2 linked regions of the Homo sapiens genome follow. The protein of the gene in region 2 purifies or fractionates together with the protein of the main gene of each other region. This does not show direct contact. Each region holds a gene or a part of one and is shown on either strand. Other genes may lie near its edges. The genes, in order: FBXO42 and GJA10.

Region 1 (3,822 bases), on a different chromosome or scaffold from region 2:
AGATCCCAATTCAGATCTATGGATCCTAATCTCAGATCTTTCTGATCTGGTAGTGATCCTCGTCGGGGGGCCAAAGAAAGTCCTATTTTCAGGTCGTATCCTTCAGGAGCAGATGGAGTACTTGGAGATATGGCCTGTACAGGACTGTCCAAAGAAGAGCCACCCACAGCTGCCGTTCCTGGAGACAAACTCCCACCATTGAGGATAGGAGAGCCGTCTCCTCTGGCTGGGGAAAGGCTCCCTTCCCGGGAACCTGAAGGAGTCTGCCTTTGAGCCCTGGGTCTCAGTGTTCCCCAGCGGCCGTTAACACAAGGAGCTTCATCCATGCTTCTTACTGGAGACTGAGAGCGGTACTCTCGGGTTTCAGGAACGAGAGCTGGAGGAGTGGCACTGATAGGTGATGGGCGAGAGTTCAAACTGGGGCTGAGTGGGGCTCTCCCACTAGGAGCCTGGCTGAAGACCACCACACACTGTCCCACCTGGAAGACAAAGGACCAGTGCTCACACTCTTCTATGATTCTGATTGTTCATTCAACTGTCAAACATTTTATCATGAGCATCTGTCATGTGCCAGACATTTTGTAGGTACCTGAGATATGAAGATGAAAATGATGTAGTCTGCCCTCTAGGCTAGAAGTCAGACATGGGAACAATCGCTGCTTTGTGTGACATATGCTATCATTAGAGATATGTATACAGAAGGGGTGGGGAGAAGGGAACAATCAATTTTTGTTAGAAGGAGAAGGGAAAGTTTCACAGACAAACAGATGCTTAAAGTTGGGACTTACTGAATGAGTAGGGCCCCTGTAAGTTTTCCCATTTAGTGAGAAATGCCAAAGGAGCTATGGCTAATGTTCACCTCTTTTGTGACACCAAGGTGTTTTCTATTTTTGTACAAATTTCTTTGTAACCTGACAAAGTAATGTGGTTTTCCACAATTTAGGACCTGTCCTCCTGCTAGCCTGTCAGCTCCCTGCTTACCCGGCAAGCTGGATGGCACCACAGTTCTGGGGCCCCATGCTCTTCATTTTCTACCTTGAGTGGCTGCCAGGCCCAAGGACCAGAATGCATGTGCAACAACCAAGCATCCTTGAATAGCTGTAAGAGAAAAAACCAATAACAAGACTCAGGTGTGATATGCGTTCCAAAACACACACACACAGAGTTGCAGTCTCAAAGCTCTCCTGTCTGGTCTTGAAAGGATGTGGACTCTTCAGAAGGATAGCAAAATCCTCAGTTAATTATTCAGTTGTGCATGCATCCACTTACGCTTTCATTCATTCATATATTACCACTGGCTTAGCACATGGAATTGTGCTTGTGACCCATGAATCAACTGAGTGGTTTTGACACTTGCCCATAATTTTATGTGTATGTATTGGGGATTGAAGGAGAGGATAAATAATACATATCCACAACTTTCTGAATCTGCTTTCTTAAATACTGTGTGAACTCTGACAGTTATCAACCTGCTTTTTTGTTCCACTGCCCTCTCCCCTTTGAAAATATGATAGCAGTAAACTTTATAGCCTAAAAAGGAAATAGGAATGGGAAGAATATAGATATGAATATTCAAGAGACAAATATCTATGATTAAAAGGATCCCCCCACAACCCTAAAAAAAAGCAGAAACAAAGGCCAGAAAATACAAAGGCTATACCCAAAAAGCATTCCTTAAATTAAAATGCCATGGAAATAGTCTTGTATACTCCTAGAAAAGAAGACAGGGGAAACAGGTTTTGAACACTTAGTAGCATGCACATGGGAATGCCACAGAAGCAATACTCACAGCATTGGGACCGCCACACCCTCCGAGGATTAAGATAGTTGCATCATCTATGACAATCTGAGGAGGGGAAGACATTGAAAATAAACCTACAAAGACACAGGTTTCTGACTTTCTATGCTTCACTGGTATATGAGAATAGCCTACCTAGCTCCCAAATGGGAATATTCTAGTTACCATAACCTCTCCATTCTCCTAAAAACATATCAATTCTGATCCCTGTGAATAAATTACTGATAATTCACCTGAAAGGATACATTCTTTGTTGATCAAATATTAACATGAATGTCAACCACATAAAATGCAGGATTCTCTTGAGAAATGACACAGCAAAGTAAATGCTTTGGGGAGGAGCATAATATAAAACCACTATAAATAATATGACCCATTAGAAGTTGAAAAATAAATACCAGTAAAAAAGAATGATACATTTTCTTTGGCTTAGTGCATATTGGCATCTTACCTGACTCCCTCCTCCCTCTCCCGTCCTAACTGAAAGACGCTACAGTGTTTGCTGAATAGTTATTTTAATTCCTGAGCACCTGAGATTGGCCACCTCGAGGATGAGGACTGGGGCCAGAGATGTTCGGCTTGGACCACGCCCACTGCTCAAGGTCAAGGACCCAGACATCATTGCTCCTGTGAATTAAGGACAGAAGGATAAAGGTAGTTAGGAGCTCCCAGGGACCATAATGGTGGCTGGGGAGTTCCACATGCCTGTGGCCCATCTGGCAAACTTGCACCATTTTCACTTTCACAGACTGTGTGGGCTGGAGCAGGTTTTAGAGATGCCCTACTCAGAGTTCAGGGGCTTCTGAACCAGAAAGAGACCATGTTGCTGAATCCCAGCTCTGTAGCCTGAACAAGTCACTTAATTTTCTCTAACTCTGACTTTATCTCTAAAATGAAAATACTGTTACTACTGTCTGAGGAGCTGATATAAAATGAAGGGACCTTTATAAAGATGCGCAGCAAAGTGTTATGCTCCTACTTAGCACTTAGGCTGTATCTTTCTTCCCCTACTTTCCCTAGAAGTCATCCTGAGACCCTCCCTCTGCTCTTTCCACGAGGCCTCATCTGAGCCACGTCTGCGGCCAGACACTAGTGCCTAATGAGATTATTTTTTTAACCATCTATTAACTGAAGTAAAAGCAGATGATTAAAAAATAGTTAATTGGTGACAGCAGGAAATAGACACTGGTTAAGCTACAGTTTTCAAAAGCAAAAACCACAAAGAAGAGAAAAAACGATTCAAAAGGCAGCTTCATCATTGTCCAGGAGTTAAAAGCTTTATCGATTCTGGCTACAAAAAGTAATTGCACAATGACTAATGAAAGCTGCAGTTTTATCAAGGACAGACTGGCATCTCTAACCCTCAAGGGACCAACATGACGAGGACAGACTCCTGGATGGCAGTCTCTCTTTCATGGTCACTTAAGGTCATTGATTCACCCACAAAAATACAGGAATAATAGTTCCAATATCTGAAATCCTAAACTCTCTCATTGGGAGAGTAGCTCCTATAATCTCTCTCCATAACTGTTTTAAAATATGAAGATGGAAATGCCCTAAGGGAGGACAGGTGTGGGATGGTCTTGCTGCTGACAGCTCATCAACTTCCACTTCAGAGCACAGGGGGAATGACCACAACTGCTGCTACCGCTGAATCAGACAGTGATACAGATGGAATGCTCTGGCTCCTGACTATGGCTTGAGCTGTCCAGTATGGCCAGAAGTGGACAGGACAGGAGGTAGGGACAATGACCTCACAGAAATGTCATGCCTGACACAGTTTTCCTGTTCCTACCCATTCCACAACCCATCCCATTTGTTTTTTTCTTTTCTTTCCTTCTTTCTTTCTTTTCATGCCCTTTACATGTGGCTCAACCAACCTATCACATTTGGAGGGCCCACCATTTCCACTTGTCCTGTCAATCTCCCCCTCTTCTCCTCTAAAGCCCAAAAGGGCAAGAGCTGGGTAATAAAGTAGAATAAGTAAAAGCATTCTGTTCTCGAAAGTTGGCCTTCTGCAGGCA
Region 2 (3,603 bases):
TTCAGGTGATTCTCCTGCCTCAGCCTCCTGAGTAGCTGGGATTACAGGCGCGTGCCACCACACCGGCTAGTTTTCCTATTTTTAGTAGAGACGGGATTTCACCATGTTGGCCAGGCTGATCTCGACCTCCTGACCTCAGGTGATCCACCCACCTCAGCCTCCCAAAGTGCTAGGATTACAGGCATGAGCCACCACGTCCAGCCTCATTATCTATTTTAACTTAATAATACTTTCCTATTTTTCCTCTGTATCTTTCTTATCTGGAAGTCTTCCATATCTTAGAAAGCTTTAACCTACTAAGTATTTTAACCTTATTGAACCTTGAAAAACATTAGTTTTTCAGGATAAACCAAGTAACCTGTTCATGTCAGCTATACCTGTATTGTTTCCCAGATCCTAAGCTTGCTAGAGAAGCAGTTTATATTCACTTTTCTTCTAAGTTAGCAAAAATTCCATGAAAACATGATGTTCCAGATGTGGCTTAATGGATGTAATTATGTGTTATTGCTGGTATTGTTTCTGTGTCTGCCTAATCTTTACTGCTACCCTGATATGAGCCAGTTCCTGAGGGTTTGACTGATTTGTATTTTCTTTACCTATACTTTGTCTTGCAGTGAAAGCCCTGGATAATATATCATGAGGATCTACTTTATTTTGCCTATTGATGGTTATTTTGGTGATAGGGTCAAGGAACAGAATTTTAAAGTGAAAAGACAATTCCATTGACTATTATATATTGACGCCTTGTGTGTGCGATGACCAACATGCTTTAGAAAGAGTCTCTATCTGCAAGGGGTGTACCTTTCCAGGAAGGGGAACACAACCATCACAAAACTCATTTAGGCACAGTCCCAGGTGATTAATATTAATAATAGTGTTGTGAGGATTCAGGAAAGGGAAAAATAACTACAACTTGGGATGGGTAGGGAACACTTCCTGAGGAATTGAGACTCCTTTACGATCATGTCAGATGTATGGTAAGTAGCGTATCTCATGTGGATAGAAAAATGAATACAATTGTGCAATTAGAATGAATTGTACAAATATGGAGACCTATTTGTATACTAGAATAACAGGCAGCTTTGTGGGGGAGAGTAAAAGAGAATAGGAAGAAGTAAACTGCTGAAATTGTGAGGGGTATTTAGTGTTTTTTCAAAAATTAATATATTTGGAAATGTCCTATTTTAAGCATGGGCTATAAATATTAGGGCTGGAAGATCCTTCATAATTTTGCTGACATACAAAAGAACCTGCTGTATTTTTGAGCTTGTGTCTATATATTACCACCATGGGTGCTATTAACCTCAGTGTTTTCTGTATATTTCAGACATTAGTCTTTAACCATGGGGGACTGGAACTTATTGGGTGGCATCCTAGAGGAAGTTCACTCCCACTCAACCATAGTGGGGAAAATCTGGCTGACCATCCTCTTCATCTTCCGAATGCTGGTACTTCGTGTGGCTGCTGAGGATGTCTGGGATGATGAACAGTCAGCATTTGCCTGCAACACCCGGCAGCCAGGTTGCAACAATATCTGTTATGATGATGCATTCCCTATCTCTTTGATCAGGTTCTGGGTTTTACAGATCATCTTTGTGTCTTCTCCTTCTTTGGTCTATATGGGCCATGCACTTTATAGGCTCAGGGCCTTTGAGAAAGACAGGCAGAGGAAAAAGTCACACCTTAGAGCCCAGATGGAGAATCCAGATCTTGACTTGGAGGAGCAGCAAAGAATAGATAGGGAACTGAGGAGGTTAGAGGAGCAGAAGAGGATCCATAAAGTCCCTCTGAAAGGATGTCTGCTGCGTACTTATGTCTTACACATCTTGACCAGATCTGTGCTGGAAGTAGGATTCATGATAGGCCAATATATTCTCTATGGGTTTCAAATGCACCCCCTTTACAAATGCACTCAACCTCCTTGCCCCAATGCGGTGGATTGCTTTGTATCCAGGCCCACTGAGAAGACAATTTTCATGCTTTTTATGCACAGCATTGCAGCCATTTCCTTGTTACTCAATATACTGGAAATATTTCATCTAGGCATCAGAAAAATTATGAGGACACTTTATAAGAAATCCAGCAGTGAGGGCATTGAGGATGAAACAGGCCCTCCATTCCATTTGAAGAAATATTCTGTGGCCCAGCAGTGTATGATTTGCTCTTCATTGCCTGAAAGAATCTCTCCACTTCAAGCTAACAATCAACAGCAAGTCATTCGAGTTAATGTGCCAAAGTCTAAAACCATGTGGCAAATCCCACAGCCAAGGCAACTTGAAGTAGACCCTTCCAATGGGAAAAAGGACTGGTCTGAGAAGGATCAGCATAGCGGACAGCTCCATGTTCACAGCCCGTGTCCCTGGGCTGGCAGTGCTGGAAATCAGCACCTGGGACAGCAATCAGACCATTCCTCATTTGGCCTGCAGAATACAATGTCTCAGTCCTGGCTAGGTACAACTACGGCTCCTAGAAACTGTCCATCCTTTGCAGTAGGAACCTGGGAGCAGTCCCAGGACCCAGAACCCTCAGGTGAGCCTCTCACAGATCTTCATAGTCACTGCAGAGACAGTGAAGGCAGCATGAGAGAGAGTGGGGTCTGGATAGACAGATCTCGCCCAGGCAGTCGCAAGGCCAGCTTTCTGTCCAGATTGTTGTCTGAAAAGCGACATCTGCACAGTGACTCAGGAAGCTCTGGTTCTCGGAATAGCTCCTGCTTGGATTTTCCTCACTGGGAAAACAGCCCCTCACCTCTGCCTTCAGTCACTGGGCACAGAACATCAATGGTAAGACAGGCAGCCCTACCGATCATGGAACTATCACAAGAGCTGTTCCATTCTGGATGCTTTCTTTTTCCTTTCTTTCTTCCTGGGGTGTGTATGTATGTTTGTGTTGACAGAGAGGCAGATGGAGGGGGAGATTATTTATGGAGAGATAAAATTATTCATTCGATACATTCAGTTAAATTCAATTCATAAAATAGACTTAGAAAAATCTTATTATATCAATCGCTCTTATAAGTGCTGGGCATGTAAATGGGTAAAATACAGTCTCTGACATCAAAGGACTCAGGATGTAGGAGTAAAATTTAGGCAGGTAAAATGTAAATATATCAAGTGTAAGGCGTCACGTTAGTGGGAATGAGTGAGCAAAGGAGGGAGTGATCATATGGATGGGTCAGGAAAAGTTCATAGTTGAAGTTACCTTGAGCTGAATCTTGAAAGATGTGGCAAGTTTTTCCAAAACCGGAAGGACTGGGGCACATGAAAGAAGCTGTCCTGGTAGAGGGAGCAGTGCAGGTAAAGCCTAAGAGTGAGACATAGCAGTGCTGTCTGAGGAGCTGTGTGTGGCTGGAGCACAGGGTGGTAGGAGGGTGCAGAGGGAGGGAAGGCTGGAGAAGTGGGCATGGAGGCCCTGTAGGGAAGCCATAGAGAACTGACGGAGGATGTGGAGCAGAGGAGGGACTGGATCAGAGTTGCAGTTTAGAAAGTCCTTCTGTCACAGTGTGGAAAACAGTCCAGAGGAGGGATCATTTGTAACTTGAGTTGCCCTCATCTCACTAAAAAAGGAGTGTGTACTTCATTCTTTTAATACTTTTGACATTTC

Evidence for each region.
Region 1: the proteins of GJA10 (region 2) and FBXO42 purify together in Homo sapiens (affinity purification with mass spectrometry; one large-scale study listed by BioGRID and IntAct). This does not show direct contact.

What each region holds. Positions count from the first base shown.
Region 1 is NC_000001.11:16,251,307-16,255,128, forward strand, and holds part of FBXO42 (F-box only protein 42), read right to left. Parts: intron 2,426-3,822; coding exon 2,329-2,425; intron 1,876-2,328; coding exon of another isoform or gene 1,847-1,875; coding exon 1,790-1,846; intron 1,099-1,789; coding exon 982-1,098; intron 480-981; coding exon 1-479. UniProt on the Homo sapiens protein: Substrate-recognition component of some SCF (SKP1-CUL1-F-box protein)-type E3 ubiquitin ligase complex. Specifically recognizes p53/TP53, promoting its ubiquitination and degradation.
Region 2 is NC_000006.12:89,893,126-89,896,728, forward strand, and holds GJA10 (gap junction alpha-10 protein), read left to right. Parts: upstream 1-1,343; coding exon 1,344-2,975; 3' UTR 2,976-2,995; downstream 2,996-3,603. UniProt on the Homo sapiens protein: One gap junction consists of a cluster of closely packed pairs of transmembrane channels, the connexons, through which materials of low MW diffuse from one cell to a neighboring cell. Involved in tracer coupling between horizontal cells of the retina.